7 linked regions of the Homo sapiens genome follow. The protein of the gene in region 7 purifies or fractionates together with the protein of the main gene of each other region. This does not show direct contact. Each region holds a gene or a part of one and is shown on either strand. Other genes may lie near its edges.

Region 1 (3,500 bases), on a different chromosome or scaffold from region 7:
TCTGGCGGTAGTAGCATTTTTAGATATATTCTTGGCTAAGTTTCTCATTGCAGTAGTTTCATAGCTATTTATCCAGCTTGGAGAACCTTCCCTAATTTCATATCTTCTAGCCAAGTTTTTACATGTCTGTCACCACAACATAAACATGTGAGTTGAATAACTTTTAAAAGCAGAGTCTGTCTGTAAACAAGTTTTTGCCTTCTACTTTCAATTGCCTTTTTAGATGAGCTAAGTGTTGGACAGCCGGCTCAGTGCTGTTTTTGGGACTATGGAATGCATCTTCCTCCACCACTCCCCTCATTTAATGGAAGGACTTTCTTCTCTCTCCATCTAGCACAGTAATCGCTAATCCCTTAGACAATGTTTTCCCAAAATTTCAGGCAGCTATTCTATCAACAAACTGATAATTAAACTTGTGTCACATCTTTGATATTCTGTTGTATTAATTCTGTTGGGGTAGTCTTTAATCTTCGTGAAACTTTTTCTTTCCATATTAGGAAATATTTTCCTAATATCTCTAAAGCCTAACTTGTCCATCTGACTTACTGTCTGAATCTTCCCAACTTATGCATGCCCACTTTTATTGTTTAAATTTGTTTCTTTTTTTTTTTTTTAAACACAGGGAGACTGCATTGCTTATTGATCCAAAAAATTCCTGTTCTTCATCCCGCCAGTGGGTTGCTCTGGTTGTGGGACATGAACTCGCCCATCAATGGTTTGGAAATCTTGTTACTATGGTATTTAATATTTTTAAGTGCTCAAATATATTTATCTTCATCCTACTCCACATTATTTTGGCTACATAGTATTTCAAGTTTGGCTGCAACACTGTGCCAAAAAATAATTGAGTGATAGAAAAGTATTATTTTAAAAGGTCCACTTTGAAAAGGCTTATCAGAATCTCTGCATTGAACAAGGGCATATGGACAGTCTTTATTCAACAGACACTTCCTAAACTGTTCTAAAATTTGTCTGCAAGTGGGAAAAGTCAAGATACTAATTTGGGTGAGAGAAAAACATTCCTCTTAGGTGTAGATGAATGAATCATGCAGTGAGATTCCAGGCTAACTGTAGTTTCTTGAATCTTATTTGTTAATCTGATTCACAGCTGAAAAGTAACCTGATGAATAACAAACTGATCTTTAATTAGAGAGAAATGTTTTTAGGAGTCAGTTTTTTCATTGCCTAAAATGTTAAGTTGAAATTTAATGAAATAAAAGTAAACAAACTGCAGAGTGACTGCAGAATAAAGCTGTATTAAAATTCCAGCTGTTCTGTTGAAATCCTTATAATGTTTGCAGTAATGATCTCTGTCCTTCAGTCCTGATTTTTCACTCTTACTCTAAGTAAATACTATTTATGAATGCCAACTGTGTTAGAGCTTGGGAGCACAGGATTTAATAAGTGAACTAGATGTACCTCTGCAATTAAATAACTGGATATTCTGGAGCCAGCTAGATTCCCTGACATTTTAGGCTGCCAAAGAGCAGAACCTGATTTGAATGTAGATTGAGTCCATACGTCATATAAATAAGAATGTAAGACATTTATCAACTATTACGTGTCTCAGAGAGTTTCTACAGAAAGTCAACCCTTGAAAATAAATCTTTTCCTTTTATTTTGGATGTTTAAAATTTTACAGGTGAAAAAAATTCTTTGAAATATAATTTCAGGCCGGGCACGGTGGCTCACGCCGGTAATCCCAGCACTTTGGGAGGCTGAGGCAGGTGGATCACTTGAGGTCACGTGTTTGAGACCACCCTGACCAATGTTGCGAAACCCCATCTCCACTAAAAAAAATAGAAAATTAGCTGGGCGTGGTGGTGTGCGCCTGTAATCCTAGCTACTCTGGAGGTTGAGGCAGAAGAATCACTTGAACCTGGGAGGCAGAGGTTGCAGTGAGCCGAGATCACGCCACTGCACTCCAGCCTGGGCAACAAGAGCGAAACTCCATCTCAAAAAAAAAAAAAGAAATATAATTTCATGTGGAATTATGTGTTGGTGCCTGTATTCAAATATGTGAAGAAATGGCCTTTTCTTCTAATGCAGCAAGTTTGCTACTTTGTACCAAATAATTTTTTTGCTTGGTTTTGAGATAACTTTATGATTTTATTTTGAAACAAGCAATAAATTTTAGTAGGGGAAATGTGTACATTCTTATTAAACAACTTTTTACTGGTTTTATGTAACTATTCTAGTTATTAGAACTGAAATTCCAAGGGCTTAGGGATAGGTTGGAAAATAAGTTTCATTTTATGCTAGTTTATTTTAGGAAGCTACTAGGCAAATAGCCACTTATCACTTAATATCAAAATAATTTTTTTTTTAAGACAGAGTCTCACTCTGTCACTTAAACTGGAGTGCAATGGCACAATCATGGTTCATTACAGTCTTTACCTCTGGGCTCAAGCAATCCTCCTGTCTCTGCCTCCTGAGTAGCTGCAATTACAGGTGTGTGGCACCATGCCCAGCTAATTTTTGCACTTTTTGTAGAGACAAGGTTTCACTGTATTGCCTTTTGTAGAGACAGGGTTTCACTTTGTTGCCTAAACTGGTCTCAAACTCCTGGGCTCAAGCAATCCTCCCACCTCAGCCTCCCAAAGTGCTGGGATTACAGGCATGAGCTACCACACCTGGCCTTTTCTGGGGGGACTGGTTGGGGATGGAGAATGGGATCTCACTTTGTCACCCAAGCCGGAGTGCAGTGGCACAATCATGGGTCAGTGCAGCTTCATCTTCCTGGGCTTATGTAATCCTCTTGCCTCAGCCTCCCAAGTAGCTGGGACCACAGGTGTGTGTCACCATGACCAGCTAATTTTTTTTTACTTTTTAATTTTTTTAGAGATGGAGTCTCACTATGTTGCCCAGGCTTATCTCAAACTCCTGGGCTCAAGTGATCTTCCTGCCTTGACCTCCCAGAGTATTGGCATTACAGGAGCAAGCCATTGTGCCTGGCCTGCTTTCTTTTACTAATAGGCTTAATCAACTTTAATAAAATTTAGATTAAGATCTTTCAAATTTTTTTAAAATTGATTTTATCTGTCACTCATATTCTTTGTCCATTCCATTTACTATGCATTCTTATTTAACAGGTGATAATTTTATATTCCATAAGTGCTTAAACACCATTCATTACTGAACTGCATTTTTGTTTAATTTCACATAATTTTTATATAAGCAGTACTCTTTCTCAGTTTCTCTTGAACATTCAACTCATTAGTGAGTGGTTTTCCCCTGTCATTTCCATTTTTCTTTATTTGGCTCTGATAGTTTTCTGTTTTTGTTTTTCAGAGATAATCCTTTACTATACTAAATTCTACATGATTATATTTTCCACCTCTATTTGCCTATATTTATCTGTTGTCTTTTCCTTTTCCATATATGGGCTTTTTTTTTCCCTCTTCTTCCTTTTCTACCTTTGGTATTTAAAAAGTTACTTAGGACTGAATGCACTGGCTTACGCGTGTAATCCCAGCACTTTGGCAGGCTGAGGCGGGAGG
Region 2 (3,500 bases), on a different chromosome or scaffold from region 7:
GGGTGGATCACGAGGTCAGGAGATCGAGACCGTCCTGGCTAACATGGTGAAACCCCGTCTCTACTAAAAAATACAAAAAATTAGCCGGGTGTGGTGGTGGGCGCCTGTAGTCCTAGTTACTCAGGAGGCTGAGGCGGGAGAATGGCGTGAACCTGGGAGGCGGAGCTTTCAGTGAGCCGAGATTGCACCACTGCACTGCAGCCTGGGCGACAGAGCAAGACTCCGTCTCACACACACACACACACACAAAGATGAAGCAGAAAAGGGGAGGAAGACAATATCATAAACCGTTTTGGCCAGCGTGGATGACGTAAGTGTAGCAGTGAGATTCTTCTGAGAGCTGGAAAATAAGTAGGTGAAGAATGCCGGTAGCCTGAATTGGCCTCCTCTCACTTGGCCGTTTCCCAGGGAAGCCTCAGATGAAAGGGATTATTATCGTGCTTAGGGATCCCCTGATACACTGCTGTGCTTCTGTGACTCCACCCCACCTTCTTCTGGGCCTAGCACTCTCTTCCCACAGACTGTGGAGCTCAGGGGCTTTATCAAAGCTTTAGGGAAAGGAAAGATTTTTGTTTGTTTTGTTTTCTCCTTCAGAAGTTGTGTGAAGTCTTTTGGTATTTTTTAATTTCAAAATATTTTAAAACATTTTCTTTTGAGAGAGAACTCTTGATCTTGTCTTGGAAGCACTTATTCTCAGGGACAATCAAGGTCTGCAATGAAAAGTAAACATTTTAAGTTAATTGTATTAAACCACAGTCTGCATAGTAAGGAGCAAAACAAAAGAAAAAAGCATTATTTTTGCCTTGCTATTCACCCTAAACTCTCAGTATGTGTATTTCTAATTACTGTTTCAGTCCTCTTCCCAGAAAGAATCTTAGACTACAAAATGATATAAATTTTATTACAGTACGGGCATCACATCACAACTCTACCACTCTGTTAAGGATTCCTGAATGTTTAAAATGAGTAACTTCGGAATATGTGGTTTAACATCGACTGGGACCCTTAAATTATTTTAGTCCTTATGTTTTAATTTGTATAAAATAAATGGATGCCCTATTTTTAAAGGTATTTATTTTCAAAAATGTTGTCTATTTTTAAAGGAAAAGTATTGGAATTTATAGAAAAAGTATTTTTGTGCTTATTTTCACAAGTTACATTTATAACATTTCTGCAGACTCAGCAGGGTTAATGGCAAGGTGCTCTTTAATAGGTCGTCTCATTCAACATTCTGCTCTTAAATAGATGAATTATGTTACCTCCCCTTATTTTTCTGAAAAGGTACTCTTACAGTCAGGGTACATAGCAGTCATTTCACATACTTCAAACTTCTTTTACCAAGTTGCCAATGAACTTTACATTTCAGCATTTCTTCAGTGTTTTCCCATCATATTTATTAAATATCTATTTGCCTTGGTGAATAGGTTCTTCTTGTGAGACTGAGTCTCGCCCTGTTACCCAGACTGGAGTGCAGTGGCGCAATCTCAGGCTCACTGCAACCTCCACCTCCCAGGTTCAAGTGATTCTCTTGCCTCAGCCTCCCAAGTAGCTGGGATTACAAGGTGTGTGCCACGACACCCTGCTAATATTTGTATTTTAAGTAGAGACAGGGTTTCACCATGTTGGCCAGGCTGATTTCAAACTCCTAACCTTAAGTGATCCGCCTGCTTTGGCGTCCCAAGGTCTTGGGATTACAGGTGTGAGTCACCGTACCCGGCCATGAACAAGTTTTAATTCTAATACCAACTCTCATCAGTTGGTAATGATTGGTTTAGAGCACTGTTTTGAGAACTCTGAGGCAATATCTATGTTCAGCAGAAAGGAGTAACTTGGTTGATTAGTATTGTGTGGCCCATGAGCATTGGATGGAAGAGTGGGGGCATACATATATTTGTCAGTCTCCCCAAATAAAAAGAATAGTAATGAATGGGGATATACTGCTACATTAACATTTAGACCTTTGATTCATTACTTCCTATGTGAAGATTATCTACAGTTGTTTTTCTGAACTCCCTTGAAACAGCTTATGATTTTCCAAATTGTTATTCGTCCTGACCTTCTCTGCCAAAGTGAATTTAATCATTCCTTTATTGTTGCTACAATAGCCCTTTATTACCTTAATTATAATACTTATTTTTTCTTTGTTAATCATTTACTTGTCTGATTCCACTGTGGATTATGAACTTCTTAAGGAAACGACAGTATTTTACTTACTTTTATATTCTTAATACCTAACGCGATACTTGGTACCTGTCACATGTGTTCAAAAGGTGAGATCATTTGTTATTTCCTTAATGACCTGGCTGTTGTCTTATATGAACAGTGAGGCATTTATGTTTGAAAATGAAATGACTGGGTCTAAGTCTTAGGGTGATAATCGTGTGAATCAAAAGAAAAAGGCAGATGTTTTTGGTAAGAACATACAAGTTAATGTTTTTGGGTTCCCTAGAGTGCAGAGAGATTTGGGGTTTGAGTCTCCATGGCTGAGAGAATGGTAGTACCATTAGAAAAATGAAGCTGGGGGAAGTGGATTTGGGTAGATGAGTTTGGTTTTGGAGATGTTAGGTTTTGATTGAAAATATTTATTTATTAACTAGTTTTAGATGGAGGACTGGAGATAAGGATTTCATAGTGGGCCAGTTGGATCACTTCTTCTATTATGTGCCCCATAGCAACCTACCTTATTATTATTGCTTGTTTAATGCCCATCCTTCCCCCAGTAGGACAGGGAACACATCTTGTTCAAAGCTGTATCCTCAGTTATAAACACAGTTGTTTCACATGCTAAGCACTTAGTAAATAATTGTTCAGTGAATTAATGTCTGCACTATTAGTTGATTTAAATGCATCCAATGTTGTCTTTAATTTATACTGCTACTTAGAATTATTAGTTTTAAAATTACCATGGTAATCAGTTTCCATAGAATCATTGGAACTTTAAACTTGTCGAGATCTTAGAAATCTTTGACAGGCCTCCCACTTGTACCTTGGAACTACTCAAAGTCATTACTGACCACACTTCAGATTTAGCCATGTATAATATTCACTGATATGTAGTTCCATAATTACTTATTCAAAGAAATATGCATATAGTGCATGTCTTTCAGGCTGCTAACAAGATAGAATGTTGGCTTGAATGGACTTGTGGAGGTTCTATAGCAGTCTTCTTCCTTGTCCTCTGTAGTACTTTGACCAGTGGCTGTGTGAAAGTCTCGCAAGGAGATGAAATTTTATTTATGCTTGCTGGCAACATTAGGTTTTTTTTTTTTTTTAATTGATTAACATGAGGTTCTGGATAAACTTGATTTTGTTTCCTCCTTCCTTGTCCATGTTAGCATGGTGAATCATGCTGGTTGCAGGTTTGCCACTATTTGATAGTGTAAATGTAAATAATAGACACACTCTTATGAGCTATTGGGCTTAGTTCAAACACTGTCTTCTATAAAACAAGTTTGGAAAAGGTGTATCTGCCTGAGACTACAATCAGAGGATATAATTTT
Region 3 (3,500 bases), on a different chromosome or scaffold from region 7:
CCCCCTCGTGTGGCTGCCCCAGCCTGTCCGGGTTTCTACCGTGGTTCCTTCCACACCATGTTTGTCTCTTAAAGTGGGAGAGAAGGTCTTAGGTCCAAACACGTTGATTTGTGTGCTTTGTGGATTCCTCCGTCTGTACTGACTCTGTGCCGGTGTTGTTGCCCAGGCTGTAGTTACTGAAAGGGGAAGTGGCTTTTGTACAAAGGCCCTGGGGTCCTTGCCATGTGTCAGCAGCTGCGTTGCTGTGTCCTGAGATCATGTGTGGACCCCAGGGCTGCCTTCCTATGTGTGCCCGCCGTGCCGCAGTGAGGGTTGGGCAGCTCTGGCCCTGTTCTGAGTGAGGCCTGTGCACCAGCAACCCGCCCTGGGCCCGTCTGCGTTTGGTTTATGCTGGGGTGTCTGGGGACCTGCTGGCCTTTCCCCACCCGGGCCTGACCTGAACCGACCCTGGACCTCAGCAGCCTTTGATGGGCAGGAGGCATTTGGGGATATGGGGGAAGGAGCCCCCAGGCCCACCCAACAGATGGTTCTAGACTGACAGGGCACTACGCAGTGAGTCCTGAGCCAGGTCTGGGGCTCCAGGTGGAAACCCCGCCTCTCATGCCTCTCCTCAGGCTCCCCACAGGTGCAGGAAGCCGCCGCCCAGCCATGGACGGGGAGGAGCAGCAGCCACCGCACGAGGTGAGGTGGAGGCTGGGCTGGCTGCACAGAGACAGGGGCGGGGGGCTTCCCCGCTTTGTGGGCTCTCGGGGTCGGTCCCTGGCTGTTGTTCTGCAAAGGTGATCTTCACAGGGTTCTCCAGGGTCAGGCAGGAGGCACCTCCGAGGGAGAGGGGCGCTGGGCTGAGGTGGCCTGGTGGCCCTGTCTGCCCAGCTTGATGGCAGCCGTGCCAGTGATGGCCAAGCAGGAGGGGTACTGACAGTGTGGGGCCTAGGCTCTACGGAGGCCCTGCTTTTCAGGGTGTGTGGTACACAGAGCGGCCACGGGTCCCTTTCCCGGGTACGTGGTCCGTGGAGCGGTCACGGGCCCTCGTTTTTCAGGGTGTGTGGTCCACACAGCGGCCACGGGTCCCTTTCCAGGGTACGTGGTCCGTGGAGTTGCCACGGAGCCCTGGCTTTCTGGGGTGCATGGACCCTGACTTGAACTCTCCTTTCCACCTGCAGGCCAACGTGGAACCTGTTGTGCCGTCAGAGGCTTCAGAGCCGGTGCCCAGGGTGCTTTCTGGAGACCCCCAGAACCTGTGTACGTGTCCCTCAGGGTCCTGGCACGTTCCCCGGTGTTGGGCTGTTGAGTCAGGGAGGAGGGGGAGGCAGCCAACCACTGCCAGGGGCTTGGAGCTTGTGGTGAGCAGGGGCCCTGGCCGAGACCTGAGGTAGGTGCTGCTAGGCCTGGTGCCACCCAACAGCAGCTGCTCCTGGGCCCTGCCTGGCAGTGGAGCCTCTTGGAGGGGCTGCAAGCAGCACAGGCAGGCCCCTGGGCATGGGGGGCTCGTGAGCACAAGCAGTGTGAGCGGCACGGGAGTCCCTCCTTGCTGTGGCCTCAGCCTGTCCCTCCTGAGTGGGGTGGGGGGGCCCATTTCGCCTCAGAGCCCCTCCCCTAGCTGAGCCCCCTGCGGCACCTGCCCCCACTGTCCCCCACACCGAACCTCATCCACAGCAACCCCCAAGGTCGCCCTCATGGGGTGTATGGGGCACAGGACTCCTGAGGCCCTGGCTTCTCGAAGCCGTGCAGCTCACAGAGGTGGTAGCCGGTGTTCCCATCACTGGGCAGGCAAAGCCTGTGGAGTGTGACGCTCGTCAGGAGTCTTGTGCTCTGCACCTGTTCAGTTCTCAGAACCCAGGAGGGTTCTAGAGCCCAGGCTGCCAGCGGGCCCGGCGGCGTCCTTGGGGTGGGCCCGGCACCACAACGGCCTGTGCTGCTGTTGCAGCCGACGTGGACGCCTTCAACCTGCTCCTGGAGATGAAGCTGAAGCGGCGGCGTCAGCGGCCCAACCTGCCGCGCACTGTGACCCAGTTGGTGGCTGAGGACGGGAGCAGGGTGTACGTGGTGGGGACAGCCCACTTCAGCGACGACAGCAAGAGGGACGTTGTGAAGGTGAGCGCCGCCACCCGCCACATCCCGGACACGGGTTGGTGTAAGCTCCTGTGTCCTGCACTCAGGGACCTCCCGGCAGGGCCCGTGTGCCCGTGTGTGCGCACCGCAGGCCTCCTGCTTCAACACTGTGGTCCCTGGGAGTGGCAAGGTGGGCTTCCTGCCTGGGAGCCGTGACGGCCTTGTGCGTTTTCCCACTTAACAAGTGAACAAGCCTCACAGCTTCCTCTCTCGTCGCTTAGAGAATTGAGCTGTCACTGCAGCAGCGGGGTTAGCTAGCCCTGGGGTGACGCCAAGGCTGGCTGCTCCTGGGATGGGGCCCCTGGTGCTGGCGTCAGCTGTGCTGAGGGGCAGGGAGCGGCTGTGTTCTCGAGGTGTGACCTGTGGCTGTTGCAGACCATCCGGGAGGTGCAGCCTGACGTGGTGGTCGTGGAGCTCTGCCAATATCGTGTGTCCATGCTGAAGATGGACGAGAGCACGCTGCTGCGGGAGGCCCAGGAGCTCAGCCTGGAGAAGCTGCAGCAGGCCGTGAGGCAGGTGCGCAGCCGCGGGCAAGGGTCAGGGTCAGGGTCGGGGTCAAAGCCACCTGTTTGCCTGTTGCCCAGGTTCCTCTCACAGCCCATGCCCCCAGTCAGTGTGGCTGTGCCTGGCCTGCCCTGGGGATTGCCGGGTTAGGGACCTCCCCTGGGCCAGGAGAAATGAAAGAGGCTCCATTACCCGGTTTCAGGCAAGGGAGGAGGAAATGGGTGGCTCTCCAAGCTGAGGCAGGGGCTGGTCACCCGAGGACTGGGTTGCTGAGCAGTTGCTGGGGATGGGTCAGGTCTCAGTGCAAGGTTGGCCCCCCCGGTACCACACCCAGGCCCAAAGTGGGTGGGGCTCAGGGCTCCTCCTGTCCCCACTTCTCCAGCCTTGCAGTGACCGGAGAGGCAGGACTTTCTCATTGCTCTTTGTGTTTTCGGTTTTTGTTTTTTTTTTTTGAGACAGAGTCTCGCTCTGTTGCCCAGGCTGGAGTGCAGTGGTGCGATCTTGGCTCACTGCAACCTTCGCCTCCTGGGTTCTAGTGATGCTCCCGCCTCAGCCTCCTGAGTAGCTGGGATTACAGGTGCCTGCCACCACACCTGGCTAATTTTTTGTATTTTTAGTAGAGACGGGGTTTCACCATGTTGCCCAGGTTCATCTCAAACTCCTGAGCTCAGGCAATCCACCCACCTCAGCCTCCCAAAGTGCTGGGAATACAGGCATGAGCCACCGCGCCCGGCCAGGCTTTGTGTTTTCAAAGGGGGCCCAGCACGCCTGACCCCAGCCCTGGTCAGTTTGCCTTCCCCCTGTTCAAAGGAAACAATTATAATGAGATCTTATAGAAATGTCCCTAAACGTTTGGCGCCTGCCTTTCATTTTTTAATTTCTCC
Region 4 (4,128 bases), on a different chromosome or scaffold from region 7:
TGCTGGGAAGTTACCCTAAGAAAGAAACTGGACTTATACAAAAGGCATATGCTCGCTGTGCTTGGAGCCACACTATTTGTAAAAGTAAAAACAAAATCAGGAAGAATCTGAGTATCCATTAACATGAGACTAAATACATGCAGTATAGTACATCACATATTGGAATTCAAGGCTGCCTATTAAAAGAGGAAGGTGTGGGTCACGATGGTTCATGCCTGTAATCCCAGCAATCTGGGAGGCCGAGGCAGGTGGATCACCTGAGGTCAGGAGTTCAAGACCATCCTGGCCAGCATAGCGAAACCCCATCTCTACTAAAAAAAATTACAAAAATTAGCCAGGCATGGTGGCACATGCCTGTAATCCCAGCTACTCAGGAGGCTGAGGCAGGAAAATCACTTGAACACGGGAGGTAGAAGGTGCAGTGAGCCAAGATCGCACCACTGCACTCCAGCCTGAGCAACAGAGACTCCATCTCAGGAAAAATAAAAATAAATAAATAAAAGAGGAAGGTGCTTCTATATATTAAAAATTGATTTAAAAAAAAAAGTATTCTTCCTTCAGCTAGAAAAGAAAGAAAAATTTTTTAAAGAAAAAGTGATCAAGGGAAGGGATTAAAAGTATAACGATAGGCCAGGCGCGGTGGCGCACGCCTGTAATCCCAGCACTTTGGGACGCCGAGGGGGGCGGATTACCTGAGGTCAGGAGTTCGAGAACAGCCTGGCCAACATGGCGTAACCCCATTTCTACTAAAAATACAAAAATTAGCTGGGCGTGGTGGCGGGCACCTGTAATCCCAGCTACTCAGGAGGCTGAGGCAGGAGAATCACTTGAACCCGGCAGGCAGAGGTTGCAGTGAGCCGAGATCACGCCACTGCACTCCAGCCTGGGCGGCAAGAGCGAAACTCTGTCTCAAAAAAATATATGTGTGTTTGTGTGTGCGCGCGTATGCGTGCGTGTGTATACTATAGAACCACACTGACGACCTACGTTCAAATCCTGATTCCACCACTTCCTAGCTGTATGGCGATGGGCTACTTACAGAGCCTTTCTCAGTCTAGGTTTTCTCATCTAAATGAGAACAACCTTAAGAAACAGGTTCTTGTATTACCTACATGCAATATTTCTTAGGGTAACTGTGAGGACTAAATGAGTTAATACATGGAAAACACTTGATACACAGTCAGTACAATGTAAGACTATCTGTAATGACACAGAGAGCATGGATAGGTGCCATAAATAGACACATACCATAGGCTCCTACTCATGTCTTTAAACGCCCATACACACAACACACACACATATGAATATGCAATATAGTACCAATTTGTGCTGGAAAGTAAACTGCTAACATGGCTCTCACAGAGGGAGGCAGAGGCTGATACACACCTGGAGAAAGATATAGGCACCTGGCTCCCTCCACATCAACTTCCACAGCAAGTACATAGCCTGAAGTACAACTTTGACTCCGTACTGGAAAACTCGGGGCCCAACTGCAAGTCAGAAAACACCTGTGACTACCAAAGGAGCGTCTGGCAATCTGCACGGCTTTTCAAACGAACACCCCCTGCCCCCAGCCCATGGATTCAGAGGATTCTGGAGTTGACGGCATCCTACCTGCAAGACTCTGAAGTTCTGTCAACCCCACAATCTGAATTCTGTTGTTCTGCAAGAGCTCATCATGGGGTTTGGAGTCTGAAAAATGAGAATGATCCCTTTAATGTACCAGAAGCAGCAATCTAAAGTCAGATAATCTCCCAACTCAGGCTGAATCACGGACAGTGTTTTGGAAAGTAAGATATTTCAAAACCTCTCTCTGCTCCTCACTAGCCAGAACAGAGAATGCGGCCAATTCTTGTTCAGATTGCTCTAGGAGGCACACAGAGATAGGGCCTGAATCTTACCTACCTTCACTTAACATGATGCCTGGCAAACAGTAGGTGCTCAATTAAACTAATCTAGATTGTCTGGATAGTGGAATTTTCCCACCACAGAGCCATCCCTAGGAAGTCCCACTCTACCCCATCACCCTAGGATAGCAGATTCTAAACAGGGATTAAAGGCAACTAGTGCTGTTCCCACTTCTTCCTGAGATGGGGTTGAGCTACCCTCTCAAGATACCAACGTGGAGAATAATGAGGGAGCAGACACCGCTGCCCTGCACACTGTGGGGAAAAGCTGGACATGAAGAACAAATGAAAACATCTGTCTGCAGAGCTCTGCGTTGAGGGATGAGGAATGAAATATCCTGTCAGCTCAGACATAGCCTGACAAGGGTAGCTGCACAGGGACGTAGCTACCAGCACTAGCCCTGGAGTTCCACGCACCTGGGTTCCACTTACTAGGAGAATTACGTGAGACCACGCAATGGATTCACTTAACACACTTCTGACACGTGGCAAGATTAACGCCGGCTATACCTAGAGACCCACCCAGGAAAGGCTGGGGCAGAACCGCTCGTCTAATCTCGGAGAGCTGCCCAAAGGCGGCGACTAAAGGAGCACTTCCGCCTCGACTCCCCGGGGCGGTTAGAACCGAGGATCAACGGCTGAGAGAGCATCGTCCCTCCCAGACCCTTGGCCACTCACTGCAGAACCCCAGGAGGGTCACCGAGAAGCCGTGCATGGCCAACGACAGCGCGTGGTACTGCATACGGGGGCTGCGGCCCACGTCGCCCAGCACCACCGCTACTACATGCCGGGCCGCCCGCCCCCGGCGCCAGCGCTTCCATCCTCCCAGCAGCAGCAGCGGCAGCAGCAGACACAGCGCCAGCAGGACCAAGCATGAGGCCGCCATCTTGGCTGGCCCGCAGCAGTCACGTGACCGCGCTTCCTCGCGCTGTGCGCAGCCGCAGACCGAGCCTCCGAAGTGGGCCGAGAGGGCGAGAAGTGGACGCGGTTCCCTAACAGGGGCCCGGGGAACCCCCAGGAGCCCCTCGGGGCCAAGAATTAGTAGTAGTAGGACACACGCACATACACCAGATTCCCTACACACCAGTGTATTTCCCCGACTAAAGTAAAGCTGTTACTGTATTGGGATCTAAGAACTCTCTTCAGGATTCAAAGATAATTTCAAAATATAGTGACACAAGAATTTGGATAAATTTCATCCTAACATTGATAAAGGAGCCAGATGCTGACGAGTACGAATTGTAGAGTTCCGTCTATGTAAATAAAAACCAGTCCTCGCTGTTAGAAGTTAGGGGCTGGTGGGTTCTGCTTCTGGATCTGGTGCTGGTAATGTGGGTGTGCTGCATTTGGGGCGGTACCTCAAGCAGCAGATTACCTGCCCATTTTCCAGGGTGTACATCACACTTAATAAAACATTTAAAAGGTAGAGAGGGGGAAGGACAAACAAGGAAGTAAACACCATCATGATTTTGCTTAAGTATCAATGGCTAGAAAGGAAATTTCCACAGTGACCCTCCAATTTCACCTCCCAAAGTAGCCATAGTGAGAGTTTAATGTGTGTCTCTGCGATGGCCTGTATTAGTCCGTTTTCATGCTGCTGATAAAGACATACCCGAGACTGAGCACTTTACATAAGAAAGAGGTTTCATGGACTTACAGGTCCACATGGCTGGGAAGGCCTCACCATCATGGCAGAAGGCAAGGAGGAGCAAGTCACCTCTTACATAGATGGCAGCAGGCAAAAAGAGAGCTTCTGCAGGAAAACTCCTTTTTATAAAACAATCAGGTCTCGTGAGGCTTATTCACTATCACGAGAACGGCACGGGAAACACCTGACCCCATGATTCAGTTACCTCCCACTGGGTCCCTTCCACACAACACATGGGAATTCAAGATGAGATTTGGGTGGGGACACAGCCAAACCGTATCATGACCTTTTTTCTTTGAAAGCGGTCCCTTGCAGAGAAACACCAAGAGCTCACTGGTGATGCTACCCCATTGCCTCCACTTGGGAGCTGCCGCAGAACCTGGAGAGCCACCACCCAGACCGTATTCAACAAACAAACAAGACTCCTCCCCTGATGAGGACCACAGGCAGCACCCACGGGACAGGGTAGCCCACATGGATGTGGCTCCCCAGTGTCCCTGGGCTCAGCTCAGGGCTTGGCACACTTTGCATCTGCTTTTCACAATTGCCCCATCACTCCCTTTCTATGGATTC
Region 5 (2,991 bases), on a different chromosome or scaffold from region 7:
GAACTCTTTCTTTTGGGCAAATAAGGTCATAAAGATAAGTTGTGACAATTAAATGGCCCCATTTATTTTATCAGTATGTTTGGAAGCTAAGTTGGGCATGATAAGATGTACACAGCCTCTTCTTCTTTAGAGTCCAAAGAGGTGACTTTTGATATCTAAGATTATATGGAAATATTAAGGCAGAAAATGATGCAACTATATTCTTAAAATCAAATATTTTTTATATTCCATTGGTTGTAACTATTCAATATATTATTTTGATTTTAAAAATTCAAAGCTTGCCATATATAGGTGGATAGTATTCAGTTATGAAATCATTAGGATTCCCCTCTCCACCTATGGTTGCTAGCAAAATAATGCCCAAGTCTGTTTTAAAAGCCTACTGAAAAAAAAAAATTTAATGAAATAACAGCAAATAGGAATTGTGATTCCTCTTTCTATAAAATGTAAATGTTAAAATCCCCAAATACCTCTATGACAGCAATATTCAGGAAATAATATTTTATAGTAAACATTTTTAATAAACAGCAGCATAAAATAATCAGTGTTTAATATCATCTCTGGTGTGTGAAATACAAATGCATATATCCTTAATATAAAATAGCCTTTTTGTCATTACAATTCAATGCTTGCCTATTTGAAATGCCCATAATAACAAATCAAACATTAAGTAATACAGTGATTAAATGCATGCAGTGAAAATAAGGAAAGATATGGTAAGGTGAGATATCTGAAAATTGCCATTATATATTTGAAGAAAATCTATATCAAGTTAAAAACAAAGGAAACAAGAAAAACAGACCAGATATAAAAATGCAAAGATATATTTTCACTTCTGTGACACAAACCATAAGCATAGTTTTGTGCAAAAAAGGAGAAAAAGATCTGAAAATAAAGTCATCTTACAAAACATTGTCAACAAAGGAAAAGATATTTTTCAGCTTGTGAAAAAAATACTATTTTAATACAAAAGAGACTGTGTTATATAGTATCACAGTGCGATTATAAAATACATTATTACAAGTGGTTTTGAAATTTCATTTGCTCACTTTAATGTTTTCAGTTATTATAAAATGTTTAAAATAAATGTTATAGTTCTTTATAAAAAACTAACTTGAATTTACTTTTTAACCATAATAATGTTTTACCAGAGTAGGTATTTTACTGGCTCATGGAATGCTAATTTCCCTTTAAGGGACTCCTAGAAAAACTCAAGATTCACTGAAATTGTGTACTTAAAATAATAAATATTCTTGGAAAACAATTGATTGTCATATGATATACAAAATTGTGGTTTGAAGCTTCATCATTAAACAGTTGCATAGCAACAAAAGGATACAAATATTCTCCTCTACCTAAAGTTAAGAAATGTAACTTCTGAATCAGCTTATTTATGCCACAAAAATATGTTTTAATTTATCTCCCAGAAATCTGGATATAACCAATTCTTCTAGTTCACAGTACCTATAAGTTCATGTTTGTTATTTGAAGACTCAGGTTTGGGAAAATTGCAATGCATTTTGGTAAACATATTTTCTTGATTTCTCATGCTAGTTGTATTTTTTAAAAATGAAAACATCAATGTGTTTTTCATTCTCTTACATTCTCCTCATCAAATATCATTTCCAGGAATTACTTTTATATCCCGTAAGTCTCTTTAGAAGTCTCTTATACCTTTAAAGTAAAAATGAGACTTTGAGACATTGTTCTTAGAATAAAGGAGTTTTTTTTTAACAAGAGAAAAATCAAAAGTAAAATTACTTTCTATATAGAACTTGAAACGCATAAGAATTCTAAACTTGGCAAAAGATGGTCGGCAGGTAAATGCCATGAGCTGCACATTTGAAACCTCCCACTAAGGCAAAAATGGTCATGTTACTTCGGTTTGCTAGTTTAAAGAATTCAGTTCTTGGTAACTTTTGAAATGAGAACTCAGTACTTGTTTTTTAGGAAGACCATCATATTTTGCAAAATAGAATTAATTGCCTTTGGATTCCAACTGACTGTATGAATACATTGTTGTAATTCTTGGGGCGGGAATCAAATCTGTGAACATTTCCAGCACAGAAAAAAAGGGAAAGAAACTTTAAAATTACTAGACATTTGTATCATGATGGAGTTTCCTACTTCCCTAGAGCCCATTGACCATAAGCACTCCAATGCCTCGGACAACTTGTAAACAGGGAGTTGCAAGGGGTGGGCGTGCTCATCTGTAGCCACACACTTATTTTTCAGTGTTACTGGTTCCAGAAAACTCCTATGGGGGCTGTCCCCATGGGAACCCTTTTTCCTTTCCCACAGATGCTGATCTAGGCTGTGGGGCCATTTTCCTGGCTGTGCTTCCTTTGGCGCCTCATTCCTAATCCAGCAAAGAGAACTATCAACCAACAATCAATTCTAGCATCCACATCTAGCCTTCTTATGGTCTGATGCGCTGTGTTATTCCAAGGGCAGTGTAAACACACTGTGAGAAACTGTGGGAAAGACCCTCATGATCAGAGGAGGATTCACAAAAAGGCACACTCTACACCTTCCCAAAGAAGCACAACGACATAAAAGGCTTCAGGGCTTGTTATACTTCCCTTATGGCTCATTTCCCTCCAGGGTTTCAAATTTGGCCTGAAGTTTCTTCATGGATTCTGAACATCATTTCCATAAGAACATGCACAGAGTCTAAATTCAATCAATATAATTCCTGAACATCTGTCCTGAAGAAAAGACAGCAGGTAGACAAATGCTATGGTATATATACATCTGGGGGAGAGACCAGTCATGGTGACTGAAGGCTAAAACACAAAGCACCATTTGACTTTTGGTTTTATATTTAATCACAAGGTTCTTTTCCTCTTCACTGGTTTGCAGCTTTCAGTGCTCGAAACCACATGTTCCAATCCCAATGCCATGTCATGCACTCCAATGGAGTGCACATCCCACAATGTTTTTGTTTGCTTGTTTTTTTTTTTTTTTTTTTTTTCTGGCCGAGTGTCTGTC
Region 6 (3,500 bases), on a different chromosome or scaffold from region 7:
ATTTTTATGAATACGCTGAACAAAGCAAATCAGTTTATTTGTCCCCCAAATATTTTGATTTGTTCAAACAAGAATTCAGTCAGAGTCCCCATGATGCGTGTGGTGGTGCTTGGTGGTGCCTTAGTTCCTTTGACATGGGACAGCCCCTCCCAGCTCTTCATTTCTCATGAGTTGAAAAGGCTGGGCCAGGCCCGATGGCTCACGCCTGTAATCCCAGCACTTTGGGAGGCTGAGGCAGGTGGATCACGAGGTCAGGAGATCGAGACCATCCTGGCTAACATGGTGAAACCCTGTCTGTACTAAAAGAATACAAAAAATTAGCCGGGTGTGGTGGCGAGCGCCCGTAGTCCCAGCTACCTGGGAGGCTGAGGCAGGAGAATGGTGTGAACCCGGCAGGCGGAGCTTGCAGTGAGCCGAGATCGCACCACTGCACTCCAGTCTGGGCGTCAGAGTGAGACTCCGTCTCAAAAAAAAAAAAAAAAAAAGAAAGTAAATAAAAAAAATTAAGAAAAAAAAAGGCTGGACCAGCTGCCCTGTAGGATGTCTCACCTTCTGGATTGATTTTGTTTTCTCTGATATCACTGAACTTAATTAACCCTCTGATCCCTGTGTTTCCTGTGAAGTGGAAACTGAATCTACAGGGCTCAGTGATGAGGGCTGAGTATTTTTGAGAAGAAGTCCTCACTGGTGGTGTGTGTGTCACATTGCGTCCCATCAGGAGGTCCTCGATGTCGGGTTGGCCCACAGTTAGCGATGCTGAGATTGATCGCGGCCTTAGGCTGGCGACCCTGGTAGTTACGTCCCCCCTTGTGACTATAACAGTGGTTCTTTGGCTCTCGGCGAAGATCCAGTTCCCCATCAGTCTTTCACCTAATGGTGTTGGCGTTCTTGTCCAAATCAATCACGTAATTAGAAGATGGAATAGGGCAATATTTGATAATCTATTATTCGGTCCACATTGCTTAGCAGACATTCTTCAATTAAAGAAAAAAGAGCCTTCTCTAACTAACGGGGCTGTCTGGATAGGGACAAATGAGTTTTTCTCTGGGGGTTTTCTTTGAGGACTTGTGGGTTTTCATCTTGCATCCTGCTTCACTCAAATGCTGCCATCAGTACTTGTGAGGCTCAGGTTGTCTCATCTTAGGCAGCAGGAGCCTCTTCAGGTGCTTGGGCAGCCCCTTGGTTAGCCTCCGTGCCTCCAGGCGCTATGCGACATTCCAGGCTCATCTAGCACACTCCCCACCCTGGACCTGGACGCCTCCGTCTCTCCAAGGAGCCCAGTTCCTGTTAGCAGGGATCTTCCTTCTCTCTTGATTGGTGTAGCTACTTTTCACTTTTGAGAGCACCTATGAATCTGTCAGTCATTTCTGAGTCTATTTTATGCCTCCAATTATTCTTATGAGCTAGTTCAATAGGAAAAATAGCTCTTTCTAAGGGGTGTGTGTGTTTGCACGACGGGGGCGGGGGAGAGAGAAAGAGACAGACATTTTGTAAAAGACTGGCATATGTATTAGTGTGAGATTAATGAGGGCATTAAAAGAGGCTAAAGACGTTGTCACCATGCTAGTGGTTTTCAGGTCCCCCAAATCCTTGACTCTTCCTCCCATGATCTTCGATTTTCCCAAAATATCCCTGCGTCCTCCCTGGAAAGCCCCAGAATGTTCCAGAAGTGAGAGCAGGCTGGGGGCCGGGCAGCACTGTAGGCAGGACTAGAGGGTGGTCGGGATGCGGTGGTGGTGAGGGGGCGACAGACCCAGAAGGCTGAGGGTTAGGACCACAGAGGACACTGTCACTTAGAAGGAAAATACATAGGATCAGGCCCCCCTCGGGCCTCTCCAGTGTCCCCTCAGCTTCCACACCTCCCTGGGAAGTCACAGCCACATGCTGAATGTGACGCCGTGGTCTGGGTGGATAACTCGCTGGTTGTGGGTGGTTTCTGGATGCAGATGCTGCTTTCCTTAGGCCTGAATTGAGCCCTCAGATGGAGGCAGAGAATAGACCCCACAATAAAGGAGAGAGGAGCAGGGACCTGAGAGCTCCCTCTACGTGTGCTACTTCCCGGTGCAGAAAAATGCTACCAGGTAGTACCGTAATGAAAATGATAATGGCAAGACAGCATCAACAACTGTGGCTAACTTACACTTTTCAGATGAGGAGAGGCTCAGTAACTCAGCCCAGGCCACACAGCACAGCAAGTAAATTGAGAAGGCAACATGGGAACCTGGGGCCGTGGGCAGCTCTGTGGGTGAATCCCCTCCCTAGCCACCAGGCTCACGGAGATCCAGCGGGTTGCGACCCCCGTCGGGCTGCCCCACGCTCACCCCTGTGCTCATCCTCCCTCAAGGCAAGGACCAGGTGTCGCTCAGCTGTAGCACAGAGACAGGACTAGAGTGGGGGCACAGTTGTAAAATTGAACTAGGGGGCAATGGTCCTGATGCTCTGACCCCGCAAGATGCTACTCAGGGCAGCTGCCCTGCTCTCCATGCCCAGAATTTCTTCCACGTCTCCAGGAGCCCCACACTTTGACGTGGACTCTACTGGCTTCTGTGCCCAGCCGTGCCCTCTGGAGGCTCTGCCCCTGGCTTGGGTTACCCGGAGCTGGAAAATGCCAGGGCAGGTCATGGGTAAAAATAGAAACCCACAGACCTGGCACATGCTTCCTGCTGGGCTCAGGCGGCTGCCCCAGGCACAGTGTCGCCTTGTGTGGGCCACTGCTTCCCCAGGGCAGGGTGTGGGTGGGAGGATGAGTCTATCACGCCTACGTGTGCACGTGCACACACACACACACACACTGTCTCTCTCCCCACCCCCCTTTTTCTTTAATAATTTCAACTTTTATTTTAGATTCAGGGAGTACATATGCAGATTTCTTACATGGGTATATATTGTGATGCCAAGGTTTGGGGTACGATTAATCCTGTCACCCAGGTAATGAGCATAGTACCCAATAGTTAGTTTTCCAATCTTTGCCCGCTTCTTCCCTCCCCGCTCCAGTAGTGCCCAGTGTCTACTCTTGCCATTTTTCTGTCCATGAGTACCCATGTTTAGCTCCCACTTATAAGAACATGTGGTATTTGGTTTTCTATTCCTGCATTAATTTGCTTAGGATAATGACCTCCAGCTGCATCCATGTTGCTGCAAAGGATATGGGTTCATTCTTTTTTGGGGGCTGCGTAGTATTCCATGGTGTATATGAATGACATTTTCTGTATCCAGTCTACCATTGCTGGGCACCTGGTTGATTCCGTGTCTTTGCTGTTGTGAATAGTGCTGTGATGAACGTGTGAGTGCAGGTGTCTTTTTGGTAGGATGATTTTCTTTTGGATATATACCCAGTAACAGGATTGCTGAGTGAAATGGTAGTTCTGAGTTCTTTGAGAAATCTCCAAACTGCTTTCCACAGTGGCTGAACCAATTTACATTCCCATCAGTGCACTCCCCATCTTAAGCTGTTAGTACGAATACCAATCAGGCAATTGTGGCTTCACATCAGCTTTACT
Region 7 (3,500 bases):
TTGAAGTCAGTAGTTTGAGACCAGCCTGGACAACATGGTGAAACTCAGTCTCTACTAAAAATACAAAAATTAGTCAGAAATTGCTTGAACATTCACTGGGAGGCAGAGGTTGCAGTGAGCCGAGATTGCACCACTGCTCTCTAGCCTGGGTGACAAGCAAGACTCCGTCTCAAAAAAAAAAAAAAAAAAAAAAATCAGTGATAAGGTGTCCTTTGTAGTCTCTAAGTGAAATAAATTCATTACTCTTTAACCCAGTGGCTTATACTCAAAGGTAAAGCCTTTCTGATTTGCAATTTGTTGAGGGAAGAGGCCAGTTAGATCTAATTTTAAAAGTCTGAATTACATTTAAGTGTTAGTATATTTATTTTATTTTATTTTTATTTTCTTCCTTCCTTCCTTTTTTTTTTTTTTTTCCAGTGTCTGGCTCTCTTGCCCATTCTGGAGTACAGTGGTGTGATCTTGGTTCACTGTACCCTTCACCTCCTGGGCTCAAGTGATCCTCCTGCCTCAGCCTTTCAAGTAGCTGGGACTACAGGCATGCACCACCACACTGACTAATTTTTGTATTTTTTGTAGAGATAGGGTTTCGCCATGATGCCCAGGCTGGTCTTGAACTTCTGGGCTCAAGCGATCTGCCCACCTTGGCCTCCAAAGTGTTGGGATTATGGGCGTGAGCCACTGCGCCTGGCCAATGTTATTGTATTTCTTTAAGAATTATAATGTGAGGCGTAAGTACAAAGTACAGTTATAATTCAGGATGGGCTTAATTACATAAATATATTATAAGTTTTAAGTTTGTAAACTCAGGAGCAAGGTATAGGATTATAATCGTGTTGAAGGAGTCTTAAATTTTCACATCCTAAAATGGAGAGAATTGAGTAAGTTCTAAAACTTGCATGAAAGATGACATTAAATTTTTATTTCATAATAATGATATGGAGTATTTCCAGTATACCTAGGGTACTCCAGATTAAGAGGATTTGAAGGAGACATTTTTGCTATACCAGCTAGATTGAAAAGTAAATCTTTAAAAGTAAAGTTTAAAGAACTTTTTTTCCTCTTTGTTGGTCTTCTGTTTTATGGAAATAATGGACTTTTTAAAAAATGTGCTTAGGTGTGGAGTTTCTTTTAAAAGAATGTTCCCGTGCCTTTATGGGGGAGGATGCCATATGCTTAGTATATGGGAAATATGGTCCAGGATCATTGTGTCATCTCACTGGCTGTGATCACTTTTGCACATTTGTCACTGTCAGGGAGACCATTCCCTTTCTCCCTCTGCCACAGTTCATTCCTAGAGCCCCGTGAGATAATGTGTGTGTGTGTCTATTGGATATTACACTTTTTTTTTTTTTTGAGATAGAGTCTTGCTCTGTCTCCCAAGCTGGAGTGCAGTGGCATGATCATAGTTCACTGGGCTCACTGCAGCCTTGACTTTCCGGGCTCAGGTGGTCCTCCTACCTCGGTATCCCGAATAGCTGGGACCACAGATCACCAAGACTGGCTAATTTTTTGTATTTTTTTGTAGAGATGGGTTTTCACCATGTTGCTTAGGCTGGTCTGGAGCTCCTAGGCTCAAGTGATCTTCCCACCTCAGCTTCCCAAAATGCTGGGATTACAGGCATGAGCCACGGCACCCAGCTGATATTACCTTTTTTTTTTTTTTTTTTTTTTGAGACAGTGGTGTCTCACTCTGGAGGGCAGTGGTGTGATCTTGGCTCACTGCAACCTTGGCCTCTCAGGTTCAAGCGATTCTCCTGCCTCAGCCTCCTGAGTAGCTGGGATTCTGCGTCTGCCACCATGCCCAGCTAATTTTTGTTTTTTAGTAAAGACAGGATTTCACCATGTTGGCCTGGCTGGTCTTGAGCTCCTGACCTCAAGTAATCCACCCATCTTGGCCTCCCAAAGTGCTGTGATTATAGCTGTGAGCCACCGTGCCCTGCCCGACGTTACGTTTTTTGCCTGGAGTTCTGATGGAATCTGTACTGTGGCAAGGAAAACAATGTTAATATTCTAAGAAATAGTTATTTTTTTCTGGAACCTAGAAAATGAATTTTTTGCTATATTTCTTTTTGATGAATGTGTTTTCTTTTGATGATGTCATTGTACCTCAAGCAATCTTTGCAGATATTTTGCTGAAGTTTCTCTCTCCCCTTTTCTTCAGATGGCAGCCACCATAATGATACTATATGTGTCCAAGCTAAACAAAATCATTCACTTCCCTGATTTTGATAAGAAAATTCCTGTAAAGGTAAGTAATGAAAAGTATGTATGACTGTGATAGAAGATGTGAAAATACACATTGATTTTAGAGTACAGGTCAATTTCTATACACACTGTACTTCCTGCCTGCACTGGATAGAAACTTCTTTTTTTGTTTGAGATGGACTGTCGCTCTGTCGCCCAGGCTGGAGTGCAATGGTGTGATCTTGGCTCACTGCAATCTCCGCCTCCTGGGTTCAAGTGATTCTCGTGCCTCAGCCTCCCTAGTAGCTGGGATTACAGGTGCCTGCCACCATTCCCAGCTAATTTTTTTTGTTTTGTTTTGTTTTTGTATTTTTAGTAGAGATGGGGTTTCACCATGTTGGTGAGGCTGGTCTCGAACTCCTGACCTCAAGTGATCCACCCACCTTAGCCTCCCAAAGTGCTCGGATTACAGGTGTGAGCCACTGTGCCTGGCCAAGAAACTTTAATAAAGACTGTATATCATTTAGTTGTCCATTTATGTAATGCAGTAAGTAGTAGTAAAAGTATGTGCTTAACAACTGACATCAAATAAATGAATACTGTGTGTCTTGGGAAGTGAGAGAACTCTAAATTAGGCATTGGCAAACTTTTTTGGTAAAGGGTCAGACCATCTCTTGTAATTATTCACCTCTGCCACTGTACCATGAAAGTAGCCCTTGATGACATTTAAATGGGTTGATGTCCATGTGTTCCAATAAAACTTTATTTACATAAACAAGAGCTGGGCTGGATTTGAGCTCTAGTTTACTGATTTCTGTTTTCAGTTTTCATTTTTATCCTGGACTGACAAAAGCTGTGAGTGGAATGAAGAATGCAATTTGATATACATAGAAATACGCAGTTTTTTCCGTCCTGGAACTAGAAACATAAAATCTGCCATTCCTTCGTGGACTGTGGAATGGAACTAACGTTTGTTGAACAGTTGCTGGGTTCCAGACATTAGGGCAGGCATTTAATTCTTAGACCAGTCCCATACAACAGGTGGTATTTATGGATTATGACAGCATTTAGGTTTAAATCAGACTGTCAGTTCCCTGAGGGTGAGGATCTCATGTGGCTGGTTTGCTGCTGTTTCTCTAGTGCTTGGAAAAATGCCAGCATCTAGCACTGGATTATTTATCAGACAGACCAAAGAAGCACATGCTTACAGCATCAGTAATCAGGGGAGCCCAGTGTGGTGGCTCACGCCTATAATCCCAGTGACTCGGGGAGATCAAGGCAGGAGGATCGTCTGAGGCCAGGAGTTGGAGGTCAGT

The links.
Region 1: the proteins of SLC35D2 (region 7) and NPEPPS purify together in Homo sapiens (affinity purification with mass spectrometry; one large-scale study listed by BioGRID and IntAct). This does not show direct contact.
Region 2: the proteins of SLC35D2 (region 7) and TM9SF3 purify together in Homo sapiens (affinity purification with mass spectrometry; one large-scale study listed by BioGRID and IntAct). This does not show direct contact.
Region 3: the proteins of SLC35D2 (region 7) and TRABD purify together in Homo sapiens (affinity purification with mass spectrometry; one large-scale study listed by BioGRID and IntAct). This does not show direct contact.
Region 4: the proteins of SLC35D2 (region 7) and ALG1 purify together in Homo sapiens (affinity purification with mass spectrometry; one large-scale study listed by BioGRID and IntAct). This does not show direct contact.
Region 5: the proteins of SLC35D2 (region 7) and ROR1 purify together in Homo sapiens (affinity purification with mass spectrometry; one large-scale study listed by BioGRID and IntAct). This does not show direct contact.
Region 6: the proteins of SLC35D2 (region 7) and TUBA8 purify together in Homo sapiens (affinity purification with mass spectrometry; one large-scale study listed by BioGRID and IntAct). This does not show direct contact.

Annotation. Positions count from the first base shown.
Region 1 is NC_000017.11:47,586,608-47,590,107, forward strand, and holds part of NPEPPS (puromycin-sensitive aminopeptidase), read left to right. Parts: intron 1-622; coding exon 623-737; intron 738-3,500. UniProt on the Homo sapiens protein: Aminopeptidase with broad substrate specificity for several peptides. Involved in proteolytic events essential for cell growth and viability. May act as regulator of neuropeptide activity.
Region 2 is NC_000010.11:96,577,013-96,580,512, reverse strand, and holds part of TM9SF3 (transmembrane 9 superfamily member 3 precursor), read left to right. Parts: intron 1-3,500.
Region 3 is NC_000022.11:50,192,413-50,195,912, forward strand, and holds part of TRABD (traB domain-containing protein), read left to right. Parts: intron 1-614; 5' UTR 615-648; coding exon 649-681; intron 682-1,163; coding exon 1,164-1,242; intron 1,243-1,927; coding exon 1,928-2,094; intron 2,095-2,487; coding exon 2,488-2,628; intron 2,629-3,500.
Region 4 is NC_000016.10:5,070,515-5,074,642, reverse strand, and holds the start of ALG1 (chitobiosyldiphosphodolichol beta-mannosyltransferase), read right to left. Parts: upstream 2,801-4,128; 5' UTR 2,794-2,800; coding exon 2,586-2,793; intron 2,396-2,585; exon of another isoform or gene 2,340-2,395; intron 1,693-2,339; coding exon 1,615-1,692; intron 1,491-1,614; coding exon 1,387-1,490; intron 1-1,386. UniProt on the Homo sapiens protein: Mannosyltransferase that operates in the biosynthetic pathway of dolichol-linked oligosaccharides, the glycan precursors employed in protein asparagine (N)-glycosylation.
Region 5 is NC_000001.11:64,179,008-64,181,998, reverse strand, and holds the end of ROR1 (inactive tyrosine-protein kinase transmembrane receptor ROR1 isoform 1 precursor), read right to left. Parts: 3' UTR 501-2,991; downstream 1-500. UniProt on the Homo sapiens protein: Has very low kinase activity in vitro and is unlikely to function as a tyrosine kinase in vivo. Receptor for ligand WNT5A which activate downstream NFkB signaling pathway and may result in the inhibition of WNT3A-mediated signaling.
Region 6 is NC_000022.11:18,117,309-18,120,808, forward strand, and holds part of TUBA8 (tubulin alpha-8 chain), read left to right. Parts: intron 1-3,500.
Region 7 is NC_000009.12:96,363,212-96,366,711, reverse strand, and holds part of SLC35D2 (nucleotide sugar transporter SLC35D2), read left to right. Parts: intron 1-2,161; coding exon 2,162-2,248; intron 2,249-3,500. UniProt on the Homo sapiens protein: Nucleotide sugar antiporter transporting UDP-N-acetylglucosamine (UDP-GlcNAc) and UDP-glucose (UDP-Glc) from the cytosol into the lumen of the Golgi in exchange of UMP.